Linked DNA regions of Homo sapiens. The protein of the gene in region 2 purifies or fractionates together with the protein of the main gene of each other region. This does not show direct contact. Each region holds a gene or a part of one and is shown on either strand. Other genes may lie near its edges. The genes, in order: ATXN2, BCAT1, PRR14L, ARID3B, TRIP12, EEFSEC and TRMT44.

Evidence for each region.
Region 1: the proteins of BCAT1 (region 2) and ATXN2 purify together in Homo sapiens (affinity purification with mass spectrometry; 2 studies listed by BioGRID and IntAct, with this or other methods). This does not show direct contact.
Region 3: the proteins of BCAT1 (region 2) and PRR14L purify together in Homo sapiens (affinity purification with mass spectrometry; 2 studies listed by BioGRID and IntAct, with this or other methods). This does not show direct contact.
Region 4: the proteins of BCAT1 (region 2) and ARID3B purify together in Homo sapiens (affinity purification with mass spectrometry; 2 studies listed by BioGRID and IntAct, with this or other methods). This does not show direct contact.
Region 5: the proteins of BCAT1 (region 2) and TRIP12 purify together in Homo sapiens (affinity purification with mass spectrometry; 3 studies listed by BioGRID and IntAct, with this or other methods). This does not show direct contact.
Region 6: the proteins of BCAT1 (region 2) and EEFSEC fractionate together in Homo sapiens (co-fractionation; one large-scale study listed by BioGRID). This does not show direct contact.
Region 7: the proteins of BCAT1 (region 2) and TRMT44 purify together in Homo sapiens (affinity purification with mass spectrometry; 2 studies listed by BioGRID and IntAct, with this or other methods). This does not show direct contact.

Annotation. Positions count from the first base shown.
Region 1 is NC_000012.12:111,511,684-111,516,299, reverse strand, and holds part of ATXN2 (ataxin-2), read left to right. Parts: coding exon 1-146; intron 147-2,760; coding exon 2,761-2,943; intron 2,944-4,616. UniProt on the Homo sapiens protein: Involved in EGFR trafficking, acting as negative regulator of endocytic EGFR internalization at the plasma membrane.
Region 2 is NC_000012.12:24,809,067-24,813,760, reverse strand, and holds the end of BCAT1 (branched-chain-amino-acid aminotransferase, cytosolic), read left to right. Parts: 3' UTR 1-3,737; downstream 3,738-4,694.
Region 3 is NC_000022.11:31,743,238-31,747,853, reverse strand, and holds part of PRR14L (protein PRR14L), read left to right. Parts: intron 1-4,616.
Region 4 is NC_000015.10:74,592,606-74,596,427, forward strand, and holds part of ARID3B (AT-rich interactive domain-containing protein 3B), read left to right. Parts: intron 1-529; coding exon of another isoform or gene 530-532; coding exon 533-631; intron 632-3,005; coding exon 3,006-3,169; 3' UTR 3,170-3,822. UniProt on the Homo sapiens protein: Transcription factor which may be involved in neuroblastoma growth and malignant transformation. Favors nuclear targeting of ARID3A.
Region 5 is NC_000002.12:229,915,510-229,920,125, forward strand, and holds part of TRIP12 (E3 ubiquitin-protein ligase TRIP12), read right to left. Parts: intron 1-4,616. UniProt on the Homo sapiens protein: E3 ubiquitin-protein ligase involved in ubiquitin fusion degradation (UFD) pathway and regulation of DNA repair.
Region 6 is NC_000003.12:128,264,515-128,269,130, reverse strand, and holds part of EEFSEC (selenocysteine-specific elongation factor), read right to left. Parts: intron 4,515-4,616; coding exon 4,350-4,514; intron 1-4,349. UniProt on the Homo sapiens protein: Translation factor required for the incorporation of the rare amino acid selenocysteine encoded by UGA codons. Replaces the eRF1-eRF3-GTP ternary complex for the insertion of selenocysteine directed by the UGA codon.
Region 7 is NC_000004.12:8,450,777-8,454,276, forward strand, and holds part of TRMT44 (probable tRNA (uracil-O(2)-)-methyltransferase), read left to right. Parts: intron 1-1,183; coding exon 1,184-1,252; intron 1,253-2,105; coding exon 2,106-2,213; intron 2,214-3,500. UniProt on the Homo sapiens protein: Probable adenosyl-L-methionine (AdoMet)-dependent tRNA (uracil-O(2)-)-methyltransferase.

The DNA.
Region 1 (4,616 bases), about 87 Mb from region 2:
TCCCAACTCTCTTCCACCTCGGGCAGCCACCCCTACACGGCCGCCCTCCAGGCCCCCCTCGCGGCCATCCAGACCCCCGTCTCACCCCTCTGCTCATGGTTCTCCAGCTCCTGTCTCTACTATGCCTAAACGCATGTCTTCAGAAGGTACAATACCACAATTTGTTCATGTTTTTGTTTGTCTTTGTTTAACTCCTATGTGAGTTTATAATTACAAAATAGTTTCCTCTTCATTATTTAATAACCTATAATTTCTGTGTTTTAACTTTAGTTTATTAAAACTATTTCTATTAACCTTTTGTTCATTAGAGAGAAATTTGATAAATGTGTGAAGCTATAAACTCTCTTGAATTGTTGTTAAAAAGGGGGTTTATCTCTGCCTGATAATTATGCTTCTTTACAGCCCCAGAAGGGTCTGCCCCACAGCCTTCCCCCTCCTTATTTGCACTGTATACAGTAGTTAAACAAATGAACTTTCTTCAGCCAGTCTTGAACTTAGGTTCATTTTACAGCTCTTTGGCCAAGGTCCTAGTGAACCTTCCTATTGGCCATAAGCAGGGATGGTGTTTTCTGGGTCTTTTTTGAGAGCGACAGCCCATGTAGCTGACTTTGCGTGTCTGCCCTTAGATTAAAGTAGTTGATTTTTAGAATGCCAGAAGAATTCTAAATTTAACTGAGTAATTTTTTTAAAGTTAGCTTTGCAATCTTACATAGTGAAAGGCTGCTTTAATCTGGAAGAAGTCCTTGATCTGAGATAAAATTGATAAAAACGACATATGAATTTGAATATTTAGCTATTTCTTTCCTCGTCAAAAATAAGAATAAAATCTTGTAATTCTTATTCAGTATTTGGCGCTAAATCCATCATTGCCACATATCAAATACAGGGATATGTTGTAGAAAGGTAACATTCTAATTTAAATGCCACCCATATATTAAAAACCTGTTTTCTGAATCATAATGTCCTTTTGATACTAGTTCTGAATATTTGTGTTAAAATTTTAATCTGATTTGTTCATTAAAATTAGTTAATATTGCTTATGTTGGGACTAATAAAGTTTTCCGCACAAAATGTGTTTCTCCTGCTTCCCTGGAGAAAACTGTATTGGCTACTTTTAAATAAATTGTTACCATCTAAGCAGGCAGGTCATATGACTTTGACTGAAGCATCTAACCTTGAAGAGCAAGTTCCACTGATTTTCAAGGTGACTTCTTTGCTCAAAAGGGCCTTAATAGTGGTCACTAAATGCAAAATTCTGTTGATATTTTTCTTGTAGTCCATCATTTGAGTAAGCGATGTTTATTTAATGAGAATATATTAAATAAAACATGATCATTAATGACTGTGAACATCTTTATTACATTAAGATTTAAGGACTGCTCATGTATTAACTTCACACAGAAATATACTTTCTGTGTCATTCAGAGATGTTGAATATTTCCATTTGAAAATTATAGTGTATAACATTAGCATTCTTCTAAAGATCATGTTCGTGTTTAAATTCCTGTTGGAAGCCAGGCATGGTGGCTAACGCCTGTAATCTCAGCACTTTGGGAGGCTGAGGCAGGTGGATCACTTGAGGTCAGGAGTTTGAGACCAGCCTGGCCAACATGGTGAAACCTCGTCTCTACTAAAAATACCCAGCTACTTGGGAGGCTGAGGCAGGAGAATCACTTGAACCTGGGAGGCAGAGGTTGCAGTGAGTTGAGATCGTACCACTGCACTCCAGCCTGGGCGACAGAGACAGACTCTGTCTTATAAAAATAAAAATAAAATAATAATTCTATTGGCAACATATATTAATTTGAAGTTCTAAAGAGTTTGGCAGCCGGGTGAGAGAGTGAGGAGATTTGGCTTTGACATTAGGGAAGTTTTCGCTTGGTGTTAACACCAGTAGGCTTCTCTGATGAGGGCCATTCTGTCCACTCTTTTACCTGATAGATTGGTCTAATGCACAGTAGACTGATTTAGAAAGAGTAGTCACTAGTGGCATGGCAGAATCAATAATGTAGAATTTTGACAATTCATATAGTGCTGATTTCTCCCCCAAATGTCAGTTATTTTGGTCATCTATTAATAGACTAATACAAGTCATCCCTTTAATAGAATTTTCAGCTCACAGCCTGCTAAGCCTAAGAAACTGCTTACAGGTTACTGCTTACTGTTTTAAGCCGAGTTTTAAAATTGATGATCATGATAGAAGAGATAAATAAACTAAAATTTTAGAGAAATTTAAGAAGGGTATGTACATATGTTTTAGTGGTATCGGGGTGTATAGGGATTAATAGTCTTCTGTTTAAATTTTTTTTTTCTAATTTTAGAAGTAATGTAGAAAATTCGGGTCAGGGAAAGGTAAAATATATGGAAAGTTAAAAATATTTTATCATGTAGTCATAATTTCTAGTAACATATTTCTTTACAAATAAGACATAGTTGAAACAGATTGCTACAGTTCTTTTAAGAGTTGACATCTTATTGTTGATTTCTTACCACCAACTTCATCCCTCCCTTTCTTTAAAAATAAAGGGAAATAATAAAATTTATTTATAAAACTTTGTGGCATTCCACAAAATAATTCTGAAAGAATTAGTATGGCCAAAAAAATATGTATGGTGTTTTTTTTTTTTCTATTTTTAACCAAGGAAAAACTGTAGAGTGAGTGAGTGTGTGTGCATGTGTGTGTGAATGGGTGTATTTAGCAGAAAAGTAGTACTGATGAATATCATGGAATTTATGTGATGTTCACTGTTTCTTCCTTAGGGCCTCCAAGGATGTCCCCAAAGGCCCAGCGACATCCTCGAAATCACAGAGTTTCTGCTGGGAGGGGTTCCATATCCAGTGGCCTAGAATTTGTATCCCACAACCCACCCAGTGAAGCAGCTACTCCTCCAGTAGCAAGGACCAGTCCCTCGGGGGGAACGTGGTCATCAGTGGTCAGTGGGGGTAGGTAACACTTGGGCATAATGATGGTACTCATTTTGTCATTACACTAGATATAAAGAGGGCTGAGCTACAACTCTGTTTGAGGAAGTGTAAGTATGTATATGTTAAAAATAGTAGAATCACCAGGAATTGGGAAACCCATATTTTTATTCTGGGCTCTACCACTTATTCATCATATATTAAAGCAAGTCAGACACTCATTCTGAAGTTGAGATTTCGCAGTGAGTAAAGTGTTAATAATTCTTGCCTAGTCTACATTATGGGATTGTGATGAGATTCCTATAAGGTTCATAAATACAGATATATTGTAAAACTATAAAGTTTTGTAAAGTACCTCTCTAATATGAGGCAAACACAGTATGTAACACTATTTGGAGGGACCGTATTTCCTTATCTTTTTAGCAGCTTTGTTTATCAGTACATTCTATAAACATTTATTTTTGGCTTACATTGTAGTGTGTTTCTATAGCATCTGTATATGGCACTAATTCCCAACTATATTTCCATAATAAGGAATATCAAATACAAATAAAGGGTCCAAGTTTTATTTGTGATTAGCATAAGGAATATGCTGACAGCAGCTATAAAAGTATAAAAATTAGGCTGGGTGTGGTGGCTCACGCCTGTAATCCCAGCACTTTGGGAGGCTGAGGTGGGCGGATCACAAGGTCAGGAGATCGAGACCATCCTGGCTAACACGGTGAAACCCCGTCCCTACTAAAAGTACAAAAAAAATTAGCCGGGCATGGTGGCGGGTGCCTGTAGTCCCAGCTACTTGGGAGGCTGAGGCAGGAGAATGGCATGAACTCGGGAAGCGGAGCTTGCAGTTAGCTGAGATCACGCCATTGCACTCCAGCATGGGCAACAGAGCAAGACTCTGTCTCAAAAAAAAAAAAAAAAAAAAAGTTTAAAAACTAGACGTTGACATGATTTTACAATAAGGCTGACTGCTTTTGCTACTTTGCCAATCAGTCCTTAGTGCTTTGTTCCCATAACTGTGGTAAGCAAGAGCTTACAAAGAATACTTAAAACAAACAAACAAACAAACAAAAAAAACACTTTTTCTCTTTTAATCAGTCCAGAGAACCTTTAAAAGAAACAAGATCGGCCAGTTGCTGTGGCTCATGCCTGTAATCCCAGCACTTTGGGAGGCTGAGGTGGGTGGATCACTTGAGGTCAGGAGTTCAAGACTGGCCTGACCAACATGATGAAACCCCATCTCTACTAAAAATACAAAATTAGCTGAGTGTGGTGGCTATTTGAGAGGCTGAGGCAGGAGAATCATTTGAACCCAGGAGGTGAAGGTTGCAGTGAGCCAAGATCACACCATTGCACTCCAGTCTGGGTGACAAGAGCGAAACTCTATCTCAAAAAAAAGAAAAAAGAAACAAGATCTTCAAGCTTAAGGAAACAAAAACAAAACTCAGCTGTGTTAAATCTGTTTTTAGTTGCTATACATTTCTGCTCAGCTTCATGTGATGCACATTCATGTAATTGTATCCTAAATTCCTTTGTACTTTTTATTTTCTTCCTTGGTCTTCAATTATCTTAAGACTACCAAGAAAACAAAAATTTTAAAAATCTTCTTCAGCCGGTCAGGCGCAGTGGCTCACGGCTGTAATCCCAGCACTTGGGGAGGCTGAGGCGGGTGGATCACGAGGTCAGGAGTTCAA
Region 2 (4,694 bases):
ATTTTTAAAGCAACTTTATCCTTCTTTAATTCCTTCCTTTCTTCTAGTGCAAAACTACTTAATAAGGTTGGTGTTTAGGTTAGTGTTCACACCATTCCTCATCTGGTGTGAATTACCTTCTCTTTCTTTACTATTTACTACCAACCTAGTACATGTGTTGACTGAATTCTTTTCAAACAATGTTGAGTTATCATGGTGCACCTAATAAATTAACACCACAGATTACAGCATCCTTGCTGATTTTCTCAGCAAAGCCAGATTAGATGGAAATAAACAAAGAAAATGATCCTAGAGTGAATTTTTCTAGAAAATATCTATTATGAACCATGCTGTTTAAAGTATTAGCTTGAAGGTGATGGATCCAGCTATTCAGAAAATAACTTTCATATAACCATGATTTTGCACAGTATGAGGTCTTAAATGTGTGGAAAGAGATAAATTTTTTATCATTACCACAAACCCCTTTTAAAGATTCAAAGGTGGAAGAAAGTGATTTATTTTTTCTCTTCAGCATACATATATAAAAGACTTGTCAGATGTTTAATTTGGGGAGGTTGATAATGAAACATATCAACAGAGTATAGTAGTTATAGTAGTGTTTGTGGGTAAATAATTTCCTGGGGTCAGACATATATAAACATATTTGCTTCAAAATGATAAAGGCATGAAATCAGTCTTAAAAATTGAAATGGGGGTGATGGGGGAGAAAAAGAAGAACAAATTTGAAGTGCCCTTTCAAATCTGCTGGATACAAGTATTGAAGTTTTAAGTCATCTTATTCTGTCTGAAAGTGTATTTTTCATTCTACAATAGACCCAATCAACAAGACGTATAACTTGAGTTGCATGATGTTCAGTTTATGTAATCTACTGTTGGGATGGTAAGAATTGATGTAGGCTGTGGTGTAAGAATGAATTAAAATATAGTTTCACTGGCTTTTCTCTACATATCCACTATCACAATGGCTAGGTTTCCTGTTGCTCACTATTGGATTCTGGAGAAAAATTTAATGAAAGATGATATCAGAGGAAGAATAAGTGGAGGTAGAGAAGAAAGGAATGATAGAGGAGGGGAAAAAAACAAAACATATTTTTGTGTTATCCAAAGGAGCTTTTTCCTTATTCTGTCAAGCATTGAGATCTTCTTCAGCTTTCAATGTAGTTGCTAAATACAAATAATGCTACTAGGTAGTGACTAAATATAGCAAACACTTCATCAGATATTAGAATTAGGTCACACTATTGAGGTTATAATCTGAAGGTTGTGTTACATAGAAACCACTTTAGATTATTATCAACTTGGACTAGGCTTTATTTTATAATAGCATAGTAAGTAATATCTATTGTGTCATTTCTTCAACCATTTTATTCTAAGATCCATGAAGCTTCTTGAGGCCAAATAAAATAATAAGTTTAGACAAGAAGTAGATTGTGACTTTTTTCCCTTAGAGATACTATTTACTATCTCCTATCCTGATAGGTGGAAGGTTTACTGAATTGGAAATTGGTTGACTATTAGTTTTTAACTAAAATGTGCAATAACACATTGCAGTTTCCTCAAACTAGTTTCCTATGATCATTAAACTCATTCTCAGGGTTAAGAAAGGAATGTAAATTTCTGCCTCAATTTGTACTTCATCAATAAGTTTTTGAAGAGTGCAGATTTTTAGTCAGGTCTTAAAAATAAACTCACAAATCTGGATGCATTTCTAAATTCTGCAAATGTTTCCTGGGGTGACTTAACAAGGAATAATCCCACAATATACCTAGCTACCTAATACATGGAGCTGGGGCTCAACCCACTGTTTTTAAGGATTTGCGCTTACTTGTGGCTGAGGAAAAATAAGTAGTTCGAGGAAGTAGTTTTTAAATGTGAGCTTATAGATAGAAACAGAATATCAACTTAATTATGAAATTGTTAGAACCTGTTCTCTTGTATCTGAATCTGATTGCAATTACTATTGTACTGATAGACTCCAGCCATTGCAAGTCTCAGATATCTTAGCTGTGTAGTGATTCTTGAAATTCTTTTTAAGAAAAATTGAGTAGAAAGAAATAAACCCTTTGTAAATGAGGCTTGGCTTTTGTGAAAGATCATCCGCAGGCTATGTTAAAAGGATTTTAGCTCACTAAAAGTGTAATAATGGAAATGTGGAAAATATCGTAGGTAAAGGAAACTACCTCATGCTCTGAAGGTTTTGTAGAAGCACAATTAAACATCTAAAATGGCTTTGTTACACCAGAGCCATCTGGTGTGAAGAACTCTATATTTGTATGTTGAGAGGGCATGGAATAATTGTATTTTGCTGGCAATAGACACATTCTTTATTATTTGCAGATTCCTCATCAAATCTGTAATTATGCACAGTTTCTGTTATCAATAAAACAAAAGAATCCTGTTTGTGTGGTTTCATGAAATCAGCATTGTTGAATGCATGAAGTAATAATGCTAAATTAACATTTTTATGATGTCTCAAGGTTTCTGGTCAAGGGAAGTAAATGTAGGATAGTATTTTTACACCAAAATGACACAGAGAGAATTGAGCACACCAGAAAGACCAGAAACCACACCACTGGATAGAGATTCAATATGTTTCTTTTTCAAACATTTGGACAAGAAAAAAATGGGCATTTAAAAATTCTTCCTTCCCCTGGTTATGGATTTATCTGTAGTAAAACTTAGCTTTGTCGTTTGAGATTTGCACAGAATGGGGGGAGTAGATTACCTCTTCCCATTCATTGTCATAATGGATCTACATCACTGATAAACACCATACTTCTATATGTGGTTAACTAGCTTTAGAATAAAAGACACTTTAAAAAGTAAAAGGCCTAGAGATCTTCAATGAAGTGTCCCTTTTAGCCAAACCAGGCCTTGCAGAAATTGTCCTCAAAAGCACCAAGGGAGAACAAAGCCAAGTGCAGAATTACCCAAGGGTCACACATTTTGTATTCATTTTCTTATAATTTGCCCAAATGATTTGAAGTACAGCAAAACCTGAAGTTTTGCAAAGAGTTACTGTAAACTGAACTTAAAAATGTCAGAGTGCTCGGTGACCCACTTCTCCAGACCCTGTCAACCTGTGAAAATATTGGCCTTTATTCAGATCTCTCAAGAAGTTACGCGCAGAGTTTGGAAGGTCTAGGCAAAGGTTATTAGTCAAGTGTTCTTACAGTGTCAACGCTCAATTCCCACAAGCGTGAGAAAGAGAGACCTGTCATTCCTGAGGGTGATGACATACATTTACTGGAGCTTATATAATTTATCAGATAAGACAGCAGTTTCCTTCAGGGTAGAAAGTGTGTTTTCTACATTGATTTAGTACAAAACAAAAAGAAAAGGGGATATTTCAAATTTTATAATTATTTTTCTGCTAAGCTGATTCAGTGTGATTTAAGCATATTTTTCAAATCATGAATCTGATTCCATATACATATGTGCCTTATATTGTGATAATTTATTTTTAAGTGAAATATGCTATCATAGCCTGACTTTATGTATAGTGGTGACAACTTGCAGGATCGCATTTCTGTAACCAAACGGCCGACAGCTGAGGTGTAGATGCTTCCTATGGTCTGTAGAATAATCACTGGGCTTGTTCTCTAGCTATGTCTGTATGCAATCGCGACAGTGTTGATCAAAACCCATGATCATTCTCTCCAAAGGTCTTTGTCACTAAGCCACTAGGGATTCTGAAAAGTTCGTGAGCTGAAACAAATAAATTGAGTTGGAAGATTCATGTTGACTGTTTGTATCCCAAATGCAATATACCAGTTTTTGAAGCTGAACTGATTACATTAAAAAGGGATCAAGCTGCATTTGTTTTAAAGATAGTTACATGACCAAAAGTTGCTCAACATCATTGGTCATTAGATATGTGCAATCAAACCTGCAATGAGATATCACTTCACCCCAGTTAAAATGGCCTATATCCAAAATGCAGGTAATAACAAATGCTGGTAAGGGTGCAGAGAAAAGGGAACCCTCTTACACTGTTGTTGGGAATGTAAATTCATACAACCACTATGGAGAACAGTTTGGAGGTTCCTCAGAAAACTAAACATTGAGGTATGATATGATCCAGCAATCCCACTGCTAGGTATACATCCAAAAGAAAGGAACTCATTACATCAAAAAGATATCTGCAATTCTATTTTTGTTACAGCACTGTTTACAATAGCTATGATTTGGAAGCAACCTAAGTGTCCATCAATAGATGAATGGATGAAGAAAATGTGGTACATGTACACAATGGAGTACTATTCAGCCAGGAAAAAGAATGAGATCCTGTCATTTGCAACAACTTGAATGGAACTGGAGGTCATTATGCTAAGTGAAATAAGCCAGGCACAGAAAGACAAACTTTGCATGTTCTCACTTATTTGTGGGATCTAAAAGAACTATTGAACTCATGGAGATAGAGCGTAGAATGGTTACAAGAGGCTGGGAAGGGTAATGTTGGTGGGGAGGACAGAGGAAGTGGGAATGGTTAATGAGTACAAAAAAATAGAAAGAATGAATAAGACCTCCTATTTGATATCACAACAAAGTTACTATAGTCAATAATAACCTAATTGTACATTTTGAAATAACTTAGAGAATAATTGGATTATTTGTAACTCAAAGGATAAACACATGAGGGGATGCATACCCCATTCTCCACGAAGTGCTTATTTCACATTTCATGCCTGTGT
Region 3 (4,616 bases), on a different chromosome or scaffold from region 2:
TTCACTGGTAGGTTTGTTTTCCTGTTTTTGTTTTTTTTTTTTTTTGGTGGGATAGGAATTAACACTGCCAAATTACCTGAAAGCACACTAAAGAAACGCTTACCATCTTTTTTTGTATGTAAAGTGTTCTTAAATTACCTCAAACGCCGTTGAGTAATTGCAGAGGGGATTAGTGGGAGCTCTATACCACCATTGTTGGTGTCTGTAGGTGTGCTTTTCTGAAACAAAGGGAAATAGAAAAGTTATTCTTTGGAGTCTTAGGATATTTATGGGTGACAAGACCCTTTGAGCTTATTTTGATGAACATGTGAAAAACAAGCCCGGGAAAGTTCACTTAACTTTCACTTAACACACTCAAGACTCTGCATCTAGTATGTGAGAGCAGGATAAGGGACCCTGGCTTCCTGATGAAGAGACCAGCAGTTAAGACTGCTGGGAGAGGCCAGGCGCGGTGGCTCATGCCTCTAATCCCAGCACTTTGGGAGGCCGAGGCGGGTGGATCACCTGAGGTCGGGAGTTTGAGACCAGCCTGACCAACATGGAGAAACTCCATCTTTACTAAAAATACAAAACAAATTAGGTGGGCATGGTGGCACATGCCTGTAATCCCAGCTACTAGGAAGGCTGAGGCAGGAGAATCGCTTGAACCTGGGAGGCAGAGGTTGCGGTGAGCCGAGATCATGCTGTTGCACTCCAGCCTGGGAAACAAGAGTGAAACTCTGTCTCAAAAAAAAAAGACTCCTGGGAGAGGGTCAGGCGCGGTGGCTCACACCTGTAATCCCAGCACTTTGGGAGGCCGAGGCGGGCGGATCACAAGGTCAGGAGATCAAGACCATCCTGGCTAACTCAGTGAAACCCCGTCTCTACTAAAAATAAAAAAAATAAAAAAATTAGCCAGGCGTGGTGGCGGGCACCTGTAGTCCCAGCTACTTGGGAGGCTGAGGCAGGAGAATGGCATGAACCCGGGAGGCAGAGCTTGCAGTGAGCCAAGATCGCGCCACTGCGCTCCAGCCTGAGCAACAGAGTGAGACTCCGTCTCAAAAAAAAAAAAAAAAAAAGACTGCTGGGAGAAGTATTTGTGCGTTTGCAAAGAAAGAACATGAAATAATTGTCCTCAACGTAAAAGAATTTCTACTTTTACTGGAATAATAATTTTCATACTTCCTGTAAGTATTAGTCAGTTTTTGGGAATAAATCCATTCCCTACACATTCTAATATAGTACTTATTTGTGTTGTGATAAAGACGACAAGCCAGTAGCAGCTGTCAAAAGTCGTTCATAAATCTATGGTTTATTTTTTGCTTATACCTCAAACTAGGTAATTATCTGGTATCCTCACCCAATAGGTTGATTATAAGTCATTAGCAAAGATTAAGCTGTAAATCCCTGTCTACATTTTATAAGCATGTGTTACTCACTCTTCCCTTTTACTTCACATTTAACACTTTAATGTAAAAGCATTGGTGGTTAAGGCAGAGAGCTGACAGCTGGAAAAATACTGATAAAACATACTGATAAAAAATACTGAAAATACACTTATCAGCTGTTTTTATTGCTGTGTGTTTAGATCTTGAGAAATAATGGTTAGACAACATTTTAACATATGTAATATATACTCACTGTTTTGAAAAATAAGTACAAGGCTGGGTGCAGCAGCTCACTCTGGGAGGCCGAGGTGGGAGGATCACTTGAGGCCAGGAGCTCAAGACCAGCCTGTGCAATGTAGTGAGACCTTGTCTCTACAAGAAATAAAAATATTTGCTGGGTTCACTGCCTCGCGCCTGTAGTCCTGGCTGCTTAGGAGGCTGAGGCAGGAGGATTGCTTGAGTCCAGAGTTTGAAGTTATAGAGAGCTGTGATCAAGCCACTGCATTCCAGCCTGGGCCACAGAGACCCTATCTCCAAAAAAAAAAGTTCAACATACAGATAAGTCATTGGTGATCCTATTGTCCAAGGTAACACTGTGATACTTGGCTTATATATATATATATATTTTTTTTTTTTTTTTTTTAAACTGAGTCTCCCTCTCACCCAGGCTGAAGTGCAATGGCGCGATCTCTGCTCGCTGCAACCTCTGCCTCCCAGGTTCAAGCGATTCTCGTGCCTTAGCCTCCCAAGTAGCTGAGATTACAGGCTCCTGCCACCACGCCCAGCTAATTTTTGCATTTTTTAGTAGAGATAGGGTTTCACCATGTTGGCCAGGCTGGTCTTGAACTCCTGACCTCAAGTGATCTACCCGCCTCAGCCTCCCAAAGTGCTGGTATTACAGGCATGAGCCACCACGCCCGGCTGTAGAGATGTATTTCTACATCATCCTTTTAGATTGCTCCATTGCATTCAGGAATTTAAAGAACTTGAATGTCTTCTCAAAATCGGGTTCTGTCACTGCAGTCTTGTGGCATTACCAATATTTTGATAGATGGTGTGAGCTACTGAGCTGAAAATAAGTTTATTTTTATTTTTTATTTTTTATTTTTTGAGACGGAGTCTCGCTCTGTCGCCCAGGCTGGAGTGCAGTGGCACAATCTCCGCTCACTGCAAACTCTGCCTCCCAGGTTCATGCCATTCTCCTGCCTCAGCCTCCCGAGTAGCTGGGACTACAGGCGCCCCTCACCACACCCGGCTAATTTTTTGTATTTTTAGTAGAGACAGGGTTTCACTGTGTTAGCCAGGATGGTCTCGATCTCCTGACCTCGTGATCCGCCTGCCTTGTCCTCCCAAAGTGCTGGGATTACAGGCGTGAGCCAAAGCACCCGGCCATGTTTAACCTGCCACTCTAGGCTTGCATTTAATATCACCTCACCTCTTAGGGTTCCAGCTGTTCTTGGTAACGTATCTGCAATTCTGTTCAGAAATTTGAGGACCCAGAATTAGTCCAGGAGAAAAAGGAGGGGGTGTCTGTTTTGGTTCTCTAGCCAATGTGCCTAGTTGTTTTACAGGTTGAAATTCTTAGAATTTGGTCCAAACAAGAGTATCAAGAGGTGAACCATTTTATGTGATTATCAGTATTCACTGTTTATGATAAAGATCTGTTTAGTAAACCTGTATTTGTGTATGACCGTATGTGGAGCAACATTTGGAACAAATGTTGAGCTAGAACTGTGGGGATGGAAATGAATATGATTTACTAGAAACACTGCAGGGAGTTGAGTCCACAGGCTGCAAGTGCTGATTGAATGGTGAGGGGAAGTCAGATATGGTTATGGCTGGGGATTCAAATCTAAGCTCTAGAATATTGATGGTGCCTTTTCTGAGAAGCAACAGGATTAAGAATCAGCATGTGGCTAGTCACAGTGGCTCACGCTTGTAATTCCAGCACTTTTGGGAGGCTGAGGTGGGAGGATTGCTTGAACCCAGGAGTTTGAGACCAGCCTGGGCAACATAACAAGACATACAAAATTATCTACAAAAATAAAAAAGTAGGCCGGGCATAGTGGCTCACGCCTGTAATCCCAGCACTTTGGGAGACCAAGGCGGACTGATCACCTGAGGTTGGGAGTTTGAGATCAGCCTGACCAACATAGAGAAACCCCATCTCTATTAAAAAATACAAAATTAGCTGGGTGTGGTGGCAAATGCCTGTAATCCCAGCTACTCAGGAGGCTGGGGCGGGAGAATCTCTTGAACCTGGGAGGTGGAGATTGTGGTGAGCTAAGATCGCACTGTTGCACTCCAGCCTGGGCAACAAGAGCGAAACTCCATCCCAAAAAAAAAAAAAAAATTAACCAGGCATGCTGAGGCAGAAGGAGTTCAAGGTTATAGTGAGCTATGATCGCACCACCACACTCCAGCCTGGGCGACACAGCAAGACCCTGTCTTTTTTTTTTTTTTTTTAATGAATGAGCATGTAAGTTTGCTGAGGGCGTCTTATTTATACCTGTTTCTCAAAGCTGTTTGCGTGTAGAAAGACTCAAAGACTCAGTTATTCAATAGATTGAATGAATTCTGTTTTAAACTTGGTAAGTTTTGGGGGTGCCATTCTTGCAAGTGAAATGTAGGTTAGGAATTGAAAGAAAGGTTGGGGTCAAGGTCAGGTTCTTTTTTTTTTTTTTCGAGGCAGGGTCTCACTGTGTCACCCAGTCTGGAGTGCAGTGGCCCCATCTCAGGTCACTGCAGCCTCCGCCTTCCAGGTTCAAGCGATTCTCCTGCCTCAGCCTCCCAAGTAGCTGGGATTACAGGCGTTCGCCAACATGCCCAGCTAATTTTTTGGATTTTTAGTAGAGACAGGGTTTCACCATGTTGGCCATTCTGGTCTGGAACTCCTGACCTCAAGTGATCCACCCACCTTGGCCTCCCAAAGTGCTGAGATTACAGGCTTGAGCCACCGCTCCCGGCCAGGTTCTTTTTTAAAAGAAATCATTTTTTTAAGATTTAATTCATATGCCATACAATTGACTGATTTAAATTGTACCAGTCAGTGGTTTTTGGTATAGTCACAGAGTTCTACAGCCATCACCATAATTGACTTTAGAACATTTTTATTACTCAAGAAAGAAACTCTGTGTCCCTCAGCTGTCACTCCCAATTTCTCCAAGAATCCCAGCCTTTTTTTTGGACAGACTTTCGGTTTTGTCTCCCAGTCTGGAGTGCAGTGGCGCAATCTCGGCTCACTGCACC
Region 4 (3,822 bases), on a different chromosome or scaffold from region 2:
CTGAGTCTGGGGTGAGCCAGCCAAAGGCCGTGTGTGCCAGCACTTGCAGGCTTCCACAAACGCCAGCTGCCTGGGTGGTCATGGAGGGGAGGGGCTGAGGGCGTAGACTCCTCTCTCTGAGGGACTCAGAGTCAAAGGAAAGAAAGGGCAGGTGGGTCCTCAAAGTTGGGGCTGGGTCTCATTGATCTCTGATTTCCTGGGCCTGGTGTATAGTGTAGTTCAGGGTTTGCCCGTCACTTGGAAAGTGCCAGTGCAGAGTGGTGGGGCCGGAGCCGGCCTCCTTGCCTACTGTGATTCCTTTTCTCTGGGAGCAGAGGTAGTTGAGGGGATGAACTGGGTCAGTGGAAAAAGCCAGCAACAGGAGATTGGCGAGCCTGGGATCTCCTGCCATACCCTACACTCAGGAGAAGGTTACATAGATGCCTTTTAACAGCGTGAGGCTTTGACCAGGGGTGGCCAGGCAGCATCAGAGAGGACAACAGGAGTGCTGTGGAAGGCTTGACCAGGCCCACTGTCTCCCTGTCCCCAGCAGAAGACAGAGCAGAGGCCTCGGCTGCAGCACTGAACCTGACCACGAGTAGCATTGGGAGCATTAACATGTCTGTGGACATCGATGGCACCACCTATGCAGGTGAGGCCCTGGAGCTCTGGGGGAGGCCCACGTGGCCGCAGCTAGCCACAGGGCAGCTCTGCGGCTGGCCCTGCCTCTTACCCTCTGTCTGAACACCTCCCACAGTGGCTTCCTTTTTCCTGGTCTCAGAGTTGCAAAGGTCAAGTGGTCCTCTGGACTAGTAGACTGTGGATTGTTAACAGGATGATAGGTCCCTCCCACTTTGGCAGAAACCCTTCACCTAACCCTTTTAGACCAGTGGTTGGCTCGTTAATTGAAGAAGTCAGTCAGTGTCCCACAATCCCCAGGTCTTCTCATGCACAGCCTTTCTCTGACTGTAATTCAGCTCTTCTCTTCCTTTTGCAGACTGAGACACAGGCAAAGGAACCCCAGTATAGGAGAATCAGCTTACATTGTTAAGCTCCCTGCCCCCCAGTCTTTTACAGTTATCTTTTCCTAAACCTAATTTGGCAACAGTGTTTTGTTGGTTGGTTGATTTCGCACCTTTACAGAGTCTTTCTAAGGGTTTAACTTAGTATTCATGACTGGGCACGGTGGCTGATGCCTGTAATCCTTGCACTTTGGGAGGCTGAGGCAAGAGGACCACTTGAGCCCAGGAGTTTGAGACCAGCCTGAGCAACATAGCAAAATCCCAAATCTACAAAATACAAAAAAAAATAGCCAGGCATGGTGGTGCACACCTGTGGTCCCAGCTACTTGGGAGGCTGAGGCCAGGAGGATCACTTGAGCCCAGGAGGTCGAGGCTGCAGTAAGCCGTGATTGTACCACTGCATTCCAGCCTGAGTGACAAAGCAAGACCTTGTCTCAATTAAAAAAAAAAAAAACAAAACTTAATATTCATAAAAACAGCAGTCCTTTTCCCATTCCCATTTCATTGGTTTACGGACGAGCTTGGGAACAAGCCCACCTGACTCTTGTTAAGCACAGCATTGCTGGGCGCGGTGGCTCACGCCTGTAATCCCAGCATTTTGGGAGGCCAAGGCGGGTGGATCACGAAGTCAGGATATCGAGACCATCCTGGCTAACACAGTGAAACCCCGTCTCTACTAAAAATACAAAAAGTTAGCCAGGCGTGGGGGCGGGTGCCTGTAGTCCCAGCTACTCGGGAGGCTGAGGCAGGAGAATGGCGTGAACCTGGGAGGCAGAGCTTGCAGTGAGCTGAGATCGCGCCACTGCACTCCAGCCTGGGCGACAGAGTGAGACTCCGTCTCAAAAAAAAAAAGCACAGTATTATGAGTGGGGGCCACCAGGCCTGGCCCAGGGCATCACCCACCTGTTTTACCAAGGGCCCAAGGGCATGCGGAGTGTCAGCCAGCCTGGCAAGGTGTCTCGTGGAGACAGGCGAAAGCCCTACAACTGCACCTTCTATCACAACTGGGAGTGTTTCCTCAGGGCCTACTCCCATTCTAAGGGCCACACTCCCTCAGAGCACCGCCCTGCAGGCCTCCTGGGAGCATGCTCTGGATCTCTGCTGGGCCACTCACTTCAGAGAGAGGACAGAGTGTAGAGGAGCAGTGGTGCCAAGTGGGCTCACCAGTCATGCTATGTCTGCAGACTCTGCTCAGAGGTCTCTACCTGTCACAGGAGGCCCCTGGAGGAGGTGGGGCCTGGTGCCCTTTGCCTCTTCATTGTGCTGTGGTTTGGGAGGGTTGGGGGTTGGAATTAGGTCCATGGAGAAAGCAGGGAAGTAGGAATTCAAGGCCTGGATCTTGATATCCTTTTGTCCTCTGTCAAGGAGAAAGGAGAAGGTAACTCCTTCCCTCTCAGAATGAGGAAGGGTCAGAAGTTGAAGGCTCCTCAAACCCCTGACAAGAAGGGAGCCAGTCACCCACCCCACCTGGCTCTGTCACCCAGGCTGGAGTGCATTGGTGCGGTCATAGCTCACTGCAGCTTCAACCTCCTGGGCTCAAGTGATCCTCCTGCCTCAGCCCCCTGAGTAGCTGGGACTACCCATGCCCAGCTAATTTTAAAAAAAATTTTTATAGAGACAAGGCTCTTGCTGTATTGCCCAGTCTGGTCTCAAACTCCTGGCCTTGAGCTATTCTCCTGCCTCACCCTCCCAAAGTGCTGGGATTATAGTTGTGAGCCACCACACCTGGCCTTGGTGTTCCTCTTTGTGTACCCTGGGTACACCTTGTCTCAGAGCATTTATGACATTTTAGCAAAATTACTCTGTCGACCTATCTGTCCCCCTCCCCAGCCCATCAGCACTTCAAGGCAGGACAGCATTTGGATCTTCTCCCATCACCCCCTAGCACAGTGTCTACAGCGGAGTCAGGCACAGGCTAGGCCAGCGGTGAATACTTACTGAAAGGAGCTGGCCCTCCCCTTCGCTCTTCCTCTGCCCACACTTGCTTCTCTTCCACCCACCAAGGTGTGCTGTTTGCCCAGAAGCCTGTGGTCCACCTCATCACGGGGTCTGCTCCCCAGAGCCTCGGCAGCAGCGCCAGCAGCAGCAGCAGCTCTCACTGTTCACCAAGTCCTACCTCATCCCGGGGCACCCCCAGCGCAGAGCCCTCCACCAGCTGGTCCCTCTGATGGGCAGGACCCAGCTTCCCACTTGCCACTCTCCTGTCGAGAGTGAAGGAAGTTGATGCACAGAATTTACCTCATCTCACAGAGCCCACGTCGACGAGCACCATTTGGCCAGACATTGAGAGTTTGGACGTGTCCGTCTGTCCAGGCTCCATTCAGGTCCTGCTGTACTCTGGGGGCAGGGAGAGGCTAGAGGGGCAGGACAGACAGCGTTGTCCAATCAGGGATTGTCCTGGAGAACTGGGTGGGGGTCTGTGGGTGTCCAGCTTCCTCCAGGGTTCCCCAGCCACCTCCCAGCTCAGGGCACAGTGTATCGACAATCTGTCAGCCGACGCAGGGCTGGAGGCCCTCCATTTCCCTCCCCTTTTAATTTATTTCCCTGACCCTGCCTTCTGCCATGACCCCAGGGCCACTAGTCTCTTCCCCTGTTTTTAAGTCCCATGTGGGGCTGCCAGGAGCCAAGAGCATGCCTTCATGCCCTTCTCTGCAGAGCATGGGATGGGGCCCTTCCAGCCCACTTTGCCTACTGTTAGGTTCCTGGGGTACGGGTCCCTCAAACACAAGTCTTGAATCAGTCCTCAGGGCCCCAGATCCCCCTTCTAATAGTCTGAAGGAAGAGGCTGTGAGGGCAGTTCAGGGCCAGGGCCCACAGGGCA
Region 5 (4,616 bases), on a different chromosome or scaffold from region 2:
TATTTTCACAAGACTTATTCTGTCAACAAACGCTTAATCCCTATCATGGGCCAGCTACTGTGCTAGATGCAGAGATAAAAAGGGACACTACTTGGGATTAGTGTCCTTATAAAAGTTAAAAAAAGGGTGAGGGCTAAAGACTTTAAAGAATTCATAATCAACTAAGGAATACTATTGTATACTAAAAAAAAAAAAAAATTTTTTGAGACAGGGTCTCACGGTCACCCAGGCTGGAGTGCAGTGGCACAATTACAGCTCAGCACAGCTTCCATCTCCCAGGCTCAAGCAATCCTCTCACCTCAGCCTCCCAGGTAGCTGAAGACTACAGGCATGTGCCACCATGCCCAGCTAATTTTTTACTTTTAGTAGCAACAAGGTCTCTACTAAGTTGCTCAGGCTAGTCTCAAACTCCTGGGCTCAAGTGATCCTCCTGCCTCAGCCTCCCAAAGTTCTGGAATTACAGGCATGAGCCACTGGGTCAAATGTTTCAAGTAGGATACCTATGCATATAACAGAGGTATGTTCGAGTTAAAAGAGTTTTAACAAATGAGGCAATGGTCCACAGTACTGTAAACAAGTGGAGAAAGGGCCTTGTGTTCCAATTCATCTGTGGAGCCTAATCTAAATACAGAATGTCTAGCATATAAATGACAACTGACTCTACATTAGGTGGTAATAATCAAATTTTTCAGATTAGGCACTTGAAGCTCACAAAGTACTAAGTTAAATTATTTGCCCAAGGTTACAAAGATGGGAAATGCATAGCCAGGATTGGAACCTAAGTCTTGCCTTCAAATCAGATAATCACTTGAACAGTGCTATTAAGGAAAACACACAGTAGCAGGTATTTTTCACTCTAGACCATTTGAATGACTTTTTAAATCAAGCATAACCATGATAGCCAAGTGTGGAGGTGCCCGTCTGTGATCCCAGTATTTGGGAGGCTGAGGCAGGAGAATCACTTGAACCTGGAAGGTGGAGGTTGCAGTGAGCCGAGATCGCGCCACTGCACTCCAGCCTGGGTGACAAAAGTGAGACTCTGTCTCAACAAACGAACAAGCATAACCATGAAACTGACTACTGCCAATAGCTTCTGCACTCTCAAGACAAAGCAGGTAAGCCTGAATAATGGGTAAGTTCCTTTTTCTTCTATCCAATTCAGTTTAATGAAATCACTGAAATCACAATAAACAACCAAAATCTAAAAGGCCTCAGAGAAAAATGACTGAACAGACTTATTTCAGTCTAGGAAACCTCTTTTTGCCAATAACCTAAAACTATCAGTAAGTTAGGATATTAAAGAACTACATTTTTAAAAAACCCAAGACATTAGCAGAGTTAAATTTTACTTAAAAAAAAAAAAAGAAAAATCAAGGGACAGGTCTAGCATCGGTATACTTATCTATTTATTACAAATAACAGCAAGCATCCATTATGCACAGAGAAACCCAGCAGAGAGGTAGAGAACAACTGCTTTGAGGTTATGTCTTCAAGTCTGTAACACAGCTGCTGAAATGATACACAAGTACCAAAAGAAAATACACAAGTAAAGCTTACATTACACTACACGTTAAGAATTACCAAGCACTGGCCGGGCGCGGTGGCTCACGCCTGTAATCCCAGCACTTTGGGAGTCCAAGGCGGGTGGATCACGAGGTCAGGAAATCAAGACCATCCTGGCTAACAAGGTGAAACCCCATCTCTACTAAAAATACAAAAAAATTAGCTGGGCGTGGTGGCTGGCACCTGTAGTCCCAGCTACTCGGGAGGCTGAGGCAAGAGAATGGCATGAACCCTGGAGGCGGAGCCTGCAGTGAGCCAAGATCGCGCCATTGCACTCCACCCTGGGCAACAGAGCGAGACTCTGTCTCAAAAAAAAAAAAAAAAAAAAAAAAAAAAAAAAAAAAAAATTACCAAGCACTAAGATTATATACAACAATCTAAAAATTATATTTATTCTGTAACATCCACCAGATTTTTACTCTTCCACCCTATCTGGCCTGGACTCTCCTCAGGCTTGGCCTTATTAACTAAAGCTTGGCCTATGAAAAAAGTGGCACAGAATAATCCACTGGCTTAACACTAAAACATGGCAGTGACAGTTGATATCCATCCAGGCACTCTAATGGCACGTTAGTCAGGGGAGATGTGAAGAGGCCCTGATCACTGAACCAACCAAGAGAAAGCATTCTGAAGAATCTGCTGGGGTCAAAGAACCCTTCCAAGCAGGTTGGAGTCCAGTGGCATGATCATAACTATTAACTTCAAATCTCTGGGTTCAAGCAATACTTCCGCTTCAGCCTCCAAAGTTGCCTAGAACTACTGATGCATGCCACCATGCCCAGCTAACTTTTTTTTTCTTTTTTGTGGAGACAGTCTCACTATGTTGCCTGGGCTACAACTCCTAGCCTCAAGCGATCCTCCCACGTCCTCACCTCCAGTGCCACCTCACCCAGACCAATCAGGTTTATTAGTATACCTTCACACATACCACATTGACATGAAATCATCCTTGCCCTCAGGAAGCCTACAGTCCAATCAGGGAAACAAAAGCAACACATGTCAACAAATGCAATACTGTAATGCAGAAACGAAGCAAGTACAGTTAATCAGAAATACAAAGATCACAGGTAGAAACTTGTTCGAGGAAGTGATCTGAAGACATGAGTTGTAAGTTGTTCTTCACATCCTTTATCTTCTATGTTTTTCTGTACATAGTGGGTGCTTGCTTGATTTAAATGAGGGAAAAGTCCATGTCAAACAGGCAATTGCAAGGAATGATTTCAGTGAAGATTAAAAAACCAAGTAGGTTGCTGTTTTGACTTGAGTCCATCAAATAGCAAACAAAAAAATAAAGGAGCAACTGGTATCACATTTGCTCAAAAAGATCCCTACCCATCCACTTAAAAGGGGGGAAAGTTCCCTAGGTTCTGTAAAGAAAACAGTGACCAAGATTCAGAAGCATTATTCCCTAATTGTAATCTCTTACATTAAGTCAATTTCATTAGAGTCACAAACCAGAACAGGTACTTTGTCAATAAAAAACGTAAATGAATTTGAAGTTTCTTTAAACATATTAACAAGTTTTTTCAGTAGAATGTATGGCAAACAAGTATCTGGCATGCTGATACCAAAAAAAGAAGGTAACTTTAAAAAGACAAAAATGAGACCCAAATTCTACTACCAATTAAGCAGCAATTTCAAATTATGAAGTTCTATAACTCTGTACCTTCAACCTAGTTTACATTAATTCTCCCCTGCCCCATGGACCACCACGACTAATGAGAAGCTGTATCTTTTAAAAATGACCTCAAAACAGCTCATGTAATTTTCTAAAATTAATTTATTTAGCATGTTGTTTTTTTTCAGTCATTACATCTGTTGGGTCTCACAACCACCCAGTGAGGTAAAATAGAGATTACCCACTCCCATTTTACAGATAAAATAAATGAAGACCAGATAGGTTAAGTGACTAGCTCAAGGTCACAAAGCTACTAACTGGTAGTGTGTGAATTTCCAAGCCAGTGATGTTTTCCTTGCTAAGATGAAAACCTTAAAATAAAGCAGGATATTAAAACCTTGTCTAGATAACATAAATACAATAATCTTACAAGTTACACTGGGGCCGGCGTGGTGGCTCTCCCCTGCAATCCCAGCACTTTGGGTGACCAAGGCAGGCGGATCACCTGAGAGGTCGGGAGTTCGAGACCAGCCTGGCCAACATGGTGAAACTCTGTCTCTACTAAAAATGCAAAAATTAGCCGGGCGTGGTGGCGCGTGCCTGTAATCTCAGCTACTCAGGAGGCTGAGGCAGGAGAATCGCTTGAACCAGGAGGCAGAGGTTGCATTAAGCCTACACTGCACCACTGCACTCCAGCCTAGGCGACAGAGCAAGATTCTGCTTTAAAAAAAAAAAAAGTTACAATGGGAAAGGAATCATACATGGAATCATACATTACTACAAATTTACTTTGCCAGGTGAAAGTACTGATTTTACCGTGATCTACCTAGCATCCCATTCGTTTTTTAAATGTAACTACTTTAGTTTAGCACCTTCTGGAACCTAACTGCCAAAATTGTTCTCAAACTTTTTGAAAGTAAATGAAAAAAAAAAAGAAAAATAAAGCCTGTTCATAGACTCAAACTAAGTAGTATAAATGTCAGCTGAACAGACTTAAAAACTGCTCACACTCCAGAAAAACTGGGGATTGAATGGAAACAATGATAATCTTAATTACAGTTTTCCAATTCTTATGGATATTGGCACATTCATAGAAAGGCAGACATGTACAAAGCCCACAAACCCCAATCATATTATGTACTCTTAAGCTTAAAATAAAACTCCCTCAATCTCACAAAGATAGTCACAGCAGTTCAACATTTCTGGGGCTGAACACACAGCAGGAAGTGTCAAAAGAAAGAATTAGAAATTCTGTATACTTTAAAACTTACACTTAATATTGATCACTTTGCATGTGGTAAATATGAAAATCAGCCTCAATAAAATCCTCTACAATTTATTGTCTCTAAACCTCTGCTAATTCCATTCCTCAACCCCCCCGGGGTGTAAATGCGACACACACAGGCCTCATATACAGGCCTCTTGCCTTTTTTTC
Region 6 (4,616 bases), on a different chromosome or scaffold from region 2:
GGATGGGCATGCCAGGAAAGAAAGGAACGGGCAGTGCTGGCCATCAGTATGCAATGGTTCTGACATGTTGCCCCCAGAAGCCCAAGATGGTGAGCAGGGGCAGCGACTCCCTGCGAGGAAGCCAAAGCTCAGAGTTAAGGGACCTGACAGGATCAGAAAGAACTTAAGGCTTTTTCTGATTTCAGTCCTTTCCATGCAAAATTCATAAGTTTCTTAGGGCTGCCATAACAAATTACCACAAATTTGATATCTTAAAACAACAAAATATTTCTTCTCTCACAGTTCTGGAGCCAGAAGTCCAAATCGACGTGTCAGCAGGGATGGTTCCCATGGAGGCACCGAGGCAGACTCATCTCCATGCCTCTCTCCTGGCTTCTGGGGGCTTCCGGCAACCATGGGCACCCCTTGGCTTGGAACAACAGAGCTCCAATCTCTGCCTTAGTCTTTATATGGACTTCTCTCTGTGACTCTCCGTGTCTTCTCCTTGTCTGTCTCTTATAAGGACACTGGTCATTGGACCTAAGGCCCACCCTAATCCAGGATGATTTCTTCTTAAGATCCTTACCTTAATTACATCTGCAAGACCCTTATTCCAAAATGGTCATATTCTGAGGTTCTGGTAGACATATTTTGGGGGACCATAATTTAACCTACTATAGTCTACCCTCTGGTACCCAAAATTTACATCCATCCCACATGCAAAATACATTCACCTCTTCAAACATCCCCCAAACTCTCAGTCCATTAGGCCATTAACTCTAAGTCCAAAATCTCATCTAAATTATCATCAGCTCAAAAAGTTCCTAATGTCATCATGTAAGTCACCTAATCAGGTAGGGGTGAGACTCTAGATATGGTCTATCCTGGGGCAAAATGCCTCTCCATCTGTGGACCTAGAAAACAATTTACCTACTTCTAACATTCCAAAAGGGAGACGGTGGAAAAAATACAAGGTTCATTGGTCCCAAGCAAGTTTAAAACACAGCAGGGCAAATTCCATGAGGTTTCAATACCTGAGACTGACCTCTGTGGCTACTCCCCTAGCCTCACTTCTGTTTCCAGAGCCCTGCTCTCAGAGTCATTCTTCCTTTTTTAGTTTTTGAAGGATAACATGTGTTTGTAGCTGAGTTGTTCTATCAGCCTGTTTCTTGTCTGTAGAATCCCAGAAGTCTGACAGCTTTTTATTCATTTGTCAAGTCTCTCTCCCTTTCAGTCCAGTGTTCTTGCTGGTATAACATTCTCAAAACCCTTGAGGGTCTCTTATATACATCAAGGGGTCCATGCCATTAGCCAAGACGGCTCTCCGCATAACTTTGCTATAGAAGTCCATCTCTATTTCTGGTTGCTGCTAAGTTGCTTGGATCTGTGAGTCACACACCTCCTCTCTTCAACAGAAGGTTGTCCAGGCTCACCTTTGGCCTTCTCTCCAAGGTATGCTTTCTCAGCAGTGAATTTCCTAATCTTAACATCCTTTGCAATCTAGAGGGACTGAGAACCTCCGAAATCATCAAGCGCTGATTTCTGTTTGCTAACAGTTCCTTCCTCAATTCATTCCTTTTCCCTCATGTTTTACTATAAGCATCAATGGAGAAACAAGGCAGCATCTTTCACAGTTTGCTTAGAAATCTCCTTAACCAAATGTCTCAGTACATTGCTTACAAGTTCTGCTTTTCCTGACTAGTAAATTAGATCATCAGGCAGTAGACACCAAAAGTGTTAAAAAGTAGGCTGGGGAAAAACAGGTGCACAAAAGTAAAAGGAGAATTAAATTTGTATCTGCCAAGCACCTGCCATGTGCCCAAGTACTAAAGATCAGTAACTGGCATCCTGATAGGCAAGTTCCACCTTTATAAGGACAAAGAGGGTGGCCAAAAAGCTCAGAACAGGACCCCACTCGAACATCCCTGCCTCCTTACCACTACTGACTTCTCTGCCTCAGCCCTTCTCCATGCCCTCAGCCCTAACATTGCAGCCACTGACTCTTATCAAAAACCTTTTTCTCCCTCTAGAACCTCAGGTACCCCCAATTCAAAGTCTACCCCACCCCCCAGAGAGCCCTCTTTTGACACCTCTTTCATACTCCCAGGTCCTCTCCCAAGCTGCAAGCATGTCTTCTCCCAGAGTGGAAGGGATGCCAGGTCAGAGTGGCCCCCAGAGGTCTGACTTAGGAAGCACAGAGACTGGAAAGAAATTTAGTACTGATTCATTTTCTGTTCTAGCAAAGAATCTGCAAACAGTCACCAAAGTAATCTTAATTTTGTTAAATATAAACTGAATCTACTTTTACACTTTTGTGCTTTATTTTTGAAGATTTGCACTTTTAGTCCCTGGCTTAAACTAGATTTTATTCAAGTGGTCTTTTTCTGGGACCAATGGTCTTCAGAGGAGGACATGACAGCAGGTAAAGGAGGGGACTGTGACTCACAGTGTCTGGGGGACATCCTAACACCCAGCTCTGGCCAGGTTCCAGGGCTCCTTGGATATGGTGGGGCCCTGCCATTCGACTCCTCCCACTAGATCCAAGGAGCTCTGGAACCTGGCCAGAGCCAAGTCCTTTCTTTTGTTTTGTCCTTTCTGGTCAGGAGACTCTTCCCTAATACCCCTGGCCCCTGCAGAAGGAAGTAATAGACACACTGCTGTAAAATGAGCTGGGGGGTTGAAACCTCAGGTTGCCTTCATTTGGGGGAACCCTGTTCATGCCTGCCCTCCATGAAATGCCCCTTCCCTATATCCAACCATGCTGCTCTAGATGAGGGATGGCACACGCAAGACATGGGTGCCAGTAGGGACCCTCTCCACTTCCCTCACTCAGGCCAGGTGCTGCTATCATGGCCCTCTCACCCAGCGGGTGATGTGGTTCATTTTATGTGTCAACTTAGCTGGGCCACAGTGCTCCAACTTTATTCTGAGTGTTTCTGTGAAGGTGTTTTCAGATGAGATTAACATTTAAATTGGTGGATGTTGAGTAAAGCAGATGACCCCTATAATGTAGGTGGGCTTCATCCAATCAGTTGAAGGCCTTAAGAACAAAAGGATTAACCTCCTCAGAGAAGAGGGGATTCTGCCAGCAAATGGCCTTCAAGCTGCAGCTCCTCCCTAGGCCTCAATCCTGCCAGCCTACCCTGTAGATTTTGGACTTGCCAGGTTTTATAATAGTATAAGCAAATTCCTTAAAAAACGTATCTATTTATCTATCTGCATCTAATACTAGGTGCATTAGTTGGTGTTCTCCAGCAAAACAAAACTAATAGGAGATACAGATATCTACATATTTACATCTATGTATCTTTACCTATGTATCTATAGATACCTAGATATCTGTATCTCCCATTGGTTCTGTTTCTCCGGAGAACCTTAACCAACACACCTAGTGAGCCAGACAACCTTAAAATGCCTCAATACAGCCTCCAGGTAGCCATTCCCAATTAACATGCAAATTGAAATCATGCACATCCAAGCCTCTCTAGCAGCTAGCTGAGTCCACAGGGCTGAGCACCTCCACTTCCCTGCACTGTAGGCTCCTTCAAGGATTAGAGAACTGCCCTGGACCCCAGCATTCCAGGCAAGGTCTCACATGAATTCTAAGTAGCATGTGTTCCCTACCTTTTATTCTTGTTGAAGGGGAGGGCAGTCAATGAGGCTGTAAGTTTCTCTTGTCGCATAAAGTAAAACTATTAAAAATGCCTTCTAAATAAGGGGAATATCAAGGCACTATCTTTTAAATCAGAGCCAGGCCATCATAGTAGAAGGAGGGGTGATGGGAAGGCACCAACCACTCATCCTTCTCACAGGTCTTCAGAAGAATAATGCGGCATCTGTCGATGGCCACCAGGAGTGCAAAACCAACCTGGATTTCTTCCAGATTCTGTGATTCTGAGCATCATAAGATTCACGTCATGTTTAATTTGAAATTACTGTGGTTAAGAAAAAGGTACCCAGAAATAACTCCACACATACTTGCCACCCTGACGTACAGCGTCCAGAAAGGGAGGTTTCCCCTCCAGCAGCCCCACTTGTTAACCATGTGATCTCAAGCCCACCTCACCTTCTGGAGCCTCAGTTTCTTTATCTACACAGAAGACCTACTTGGGAACACCTCCTTGAGGCACATCATAGGCCTCCAATAAACAGGCGCTATGAGAATTAGGGAGAGCAGCAGTCCTAGAATCTGAGTTGAAAGACTTGGAGCCGGGCGGGGCCAGGCAGCCAGAGGGGAGGTGGGGCGGAGCAGGCAGTGGGAGTCCCAGGGCAGGCACAGCAGCAGGCTCAGCAGCTGAACAGACAAAGGGACAGTCCCCCTCCCTTGCTGCCAGCGAGGAGGCCAGAAGGGAAGACAAGGTAAGACTGACCTTGAGGGCAGGGATCTCCACACTGTCACCGAGGCTGATGGAGCCTGAAAGGATGGTCCCTGTCATCACAGTGCCTTGGCCTTTGATGGAGAAACAGTGGTCCACAGACATGAGGAACGGTCCCGAGGGATCTCTCGTTGGGATGGAAATCTGGGACGTCAGGAGCTAGAAAAGAGAAACTGGTGCCACAGTCCGTGGGGAGAGGAGCCAGATGGGGCAGGGCAGAGGAAGGCAGAGAATGTGGCTGACCAGCAGTTCATCAAGGCT
Region 7 (3,500 bases), on a different chromosome or scaffold from region 2:
ATTTGTCATTTCCATGTTTTTTTTTTTTTTTTTTTTTTTGAGACAGGCTCTCACTCTGTCGCCTAGGCTGGGGTGCAGTGGTGCAATCTTGGCTCACTGGAGACTCAACCTCCCGGGCTCAAGCGATTCTCCCTAGTAGCTGGGACCACAGGCAGATGCTACCATGCCTGGCTAATTTTTTGTATTTTTTGTAGAGACAAAGTTTTGCCATGTTTCCCAGGGCTCAAGTGTTCTGCCTGCTTTGGCCTCCTAAAGTGCTTGGATTACAGGCTTGAGCCACTGCCCGGCTTCCATGTATTTTTTTAATCAGTCACGTCTTGCTCTGTAACAAAAGCACCCCAAAGGTCACAGGCTTAAAGCTGTGACCTTTCATTATTGCTGAAGCACCTGTGGGTCCCCGGGGTTGGCTGACTGAGGCTGGGCTCCCTCCCACATCCTGGCCTCGTGGTCCTTTGCCATCTTGTTAGCTATTTGGTACCGTCCAGAAGGTACTTTTTATGTTTTTCCAGCTTTTGAAATTGTTTCTAGTGGGATGGTTCATCTGTATTGTCTAAGGCGCTGTGACTGGAAATAGAAATTTCAACTTTTAACATTGGCCATTGGTTTTTCCTGTTTTGCCTAATGCCAGTTCTGAACATGACTAATTTTAATAATGAGAGCTCATGTTTGCACAGCTAGTGCTTTACAGTTTTCAGAGCACCTTGATTATCCTGTGTGTTAGTTGAGGCATGGCTTTATCCCTGTTTGACAGGTAGGGCGACAGCAGCCACTGATGGACCAGGGGCTGGAGCACTGGTCTCCTAGTTTGTGGCTCGCGGCTCTCCCTGCCCTAGTTTCACTCCCACGCCTAGTTTCCTTGTTTGTTGCCCTTATCTGCATAGACAATGAGCACAGTGTAGCTAAGTGTTTCCTCTGTGTCCACTGCCTCAGCTAAATGCCTTAGGTACATTCTGTTGATTGTGAAATCTTGCTTTGGATTGGATTGTTCTTGGCATGCCTTGTTTCTTTATGTAAATCTTTTATTGTAAGAAACCAGTTGTGAATTCCTGCCTTTGAGCTTATGTTTCCTATTTTAGTGTACGATTAGTCCAGTTTGATTTATGCTTTATAGGGATACTTAAAGTATTGGGAAATGGTGGTGGGGAAACCGAACAATTTATGTTTGCTCTTGAAACTGTTTTAGGTGTGGCCTGAAGTCACTGATCCTGAGAAGTTCGTGTATGAAGATGTGGCTATCGCAGCATACCTGCTGGTAAGGGTGTAAGCGACCTCAGCTTCTCTGGAGTGGGTGGAGTTTGCTACAGGCAGATGTTCCCTGTAGTGAAGGACATTTTCCAAATCCATAACTGCCGGTGCTCACAATTCTGCTGGCCAAGGTTGGTTTCTCGTGTAATGGTTTGACTTCATGTGGTCCTTTTGATGCGTATACAACAAGTTTGGGTTGAAACTTGACCTCGGGTTCCAACTTGACCTGCAGGCGGAACTGTACGTCCACACTCAGCAGTCATCGTGGAGGCACCGGCTGGCACAGGGAAGCACTGAGGAACACGTGTCTTCCGGCCCTGGCCTAGAACCTTCTAGCCCTTTCCTCAGCTGGCTCGCTAGCTGGCTACATTTGGACATGCCCTCTGATTTAATCATCTTGGTTTACTTATCTATAAGAATGTTTAGAGTAGGCTGGGTTTGGTGGCTCAAGCCTGTAATTCCCAGCACTTCGGGAGGCCGAGGCGGGCAGATCACTTGAGGTCAGGAGTTTGAGACCAGCCTGGCCAACATGGTGAAACCCTGTCTCTACTAAAAATACAAAATTAGCCAGGCGTGGTGGCAGGAGCCCATAGTTCCAGCTACTGGGGAGGCTGAGGCAGGAGAATTGCTTGAACCCAGGAGGCGGAGGTTGCAGTGACCAGAGATTGCATCATTGCACTCTAGCCTGGGCGGCAAGAGCAACACTCCATCTCAAAAAAAGAAAAAAAAAAAAGAATGTTTAGTGTAGATGATTTCAAGTTTCCTTTCACTCAGAGTTTTCTTTGACCAGTTTGTGTCTAAATTATTCTTGCGTAGAGTGAATTACCACCTGACTTTGTTTTGTTTTTCTCTTCACTTAGATTCTATGGGAAGAAGAAAGGGCTGAGAGGAGACTAACTGCCAGGCAGTCCTTTGTGGACCTGGGATGTGGAAATGGCCTCCTGGTCCACATCCTGAGCAGTGAGGGGGTAAGGCCCGGCTCCATCACCTTTTCTGGTAACTTGTCCAGAGTTTCCTCAAGTCAGGCACAGGGTTCACTGACATCTTTTTCTGCTGATACAGCCTGGATTTGGAGTCAGCCAGCTATCAGAGTAGGTAGAGACTTATAAATTTCTGTTAATCTGATAAACAAACAGCTCCTAAAACAAGGGAAACGTGGTGATCTCATTGGACCTAAGAGGAAGTCCCCGGGCCCCGGCATGGACCTATAAAATGACAGGCTTTGGGTAGCATGGATGTTTTTTTGCTGTCAGATTTTTCTTTTGAAACCCACCATCTCAAGGAGCTGGAGGGAGATAAAAAGCAAGGCAGGTTCTGCACTTGAGAAGCTTCAGGCCAGGCACGGGGCTCACGCCTGCAATCCTAACACTTGGGTGGCCGAGGCGGGTGGATCACTTGAGCCCGGGAGTTTGAGACCAGCCTGGGCAACATAGTGAAACCCCATCTCTGCAAAAAAAAGAAAAACAAATAAGAGAAGCTTCAGTTCTGGCTCGGACGGCCAGTCATGTATACACAGACAACAGTATGGAACAGTGTGGTGTGTGGTACTGGGTTTTGCCCTTATTTTCTGGATGTTCAGCTGATGCAGTGAAAGCACTCTTGGGCTGAGAGCGGCACCTGCCCAGGTAGCACGGTCAGTAGGGGTGGGTGTCTTGTGCCTGGAACTTCCTGCCAGCAACTTATACCCCTCCTGGTGCGTCCAGCGCGTCAGGTGCCATTACCCCATGATATGATGGCCAGCTTAGCCACTTCCTGCTAGGGGGCAACAGCTGGAACCTGCAGCCCAATATTGATGGTTCCAAACTGATTATCTTCCTGCTATGCTGTACTGTACAGTACTGTACTGATAGGCTGCGCATATTTGTCTACACCTGTAAGAGCTTGAAATGGTTGTTACAATGCCCTTTTTCAAGTGTGTTATTAAAGAATGAGTTTCTAATCATAATACCTATAAGCTGGTTGTGGGGGTGGTAGTGTATCAGGTGGCAGCTTGGTAGCTGGTACCTGGAGACAGCTGGGAGGTGTCTCGTGCACCCCTCCTCTTCTGCAGGCTTGGCAGAAATAAGTTTGCCCTATGAGAGCCAATGAGTGTGGCCAAGGTGCAAGAAGAGCCAGCAGCTGACCTTGACTGAGAGCAGAGAATTGGCTCACGTTCTCAGGTGTGCTCCCTGGGGCACTGGCCCTGGAAATGTTCCCACACTAAAGGCCACTGTGGTCACTCAACTCCATGTCCCATCTTGAACTCCATGTCCCAT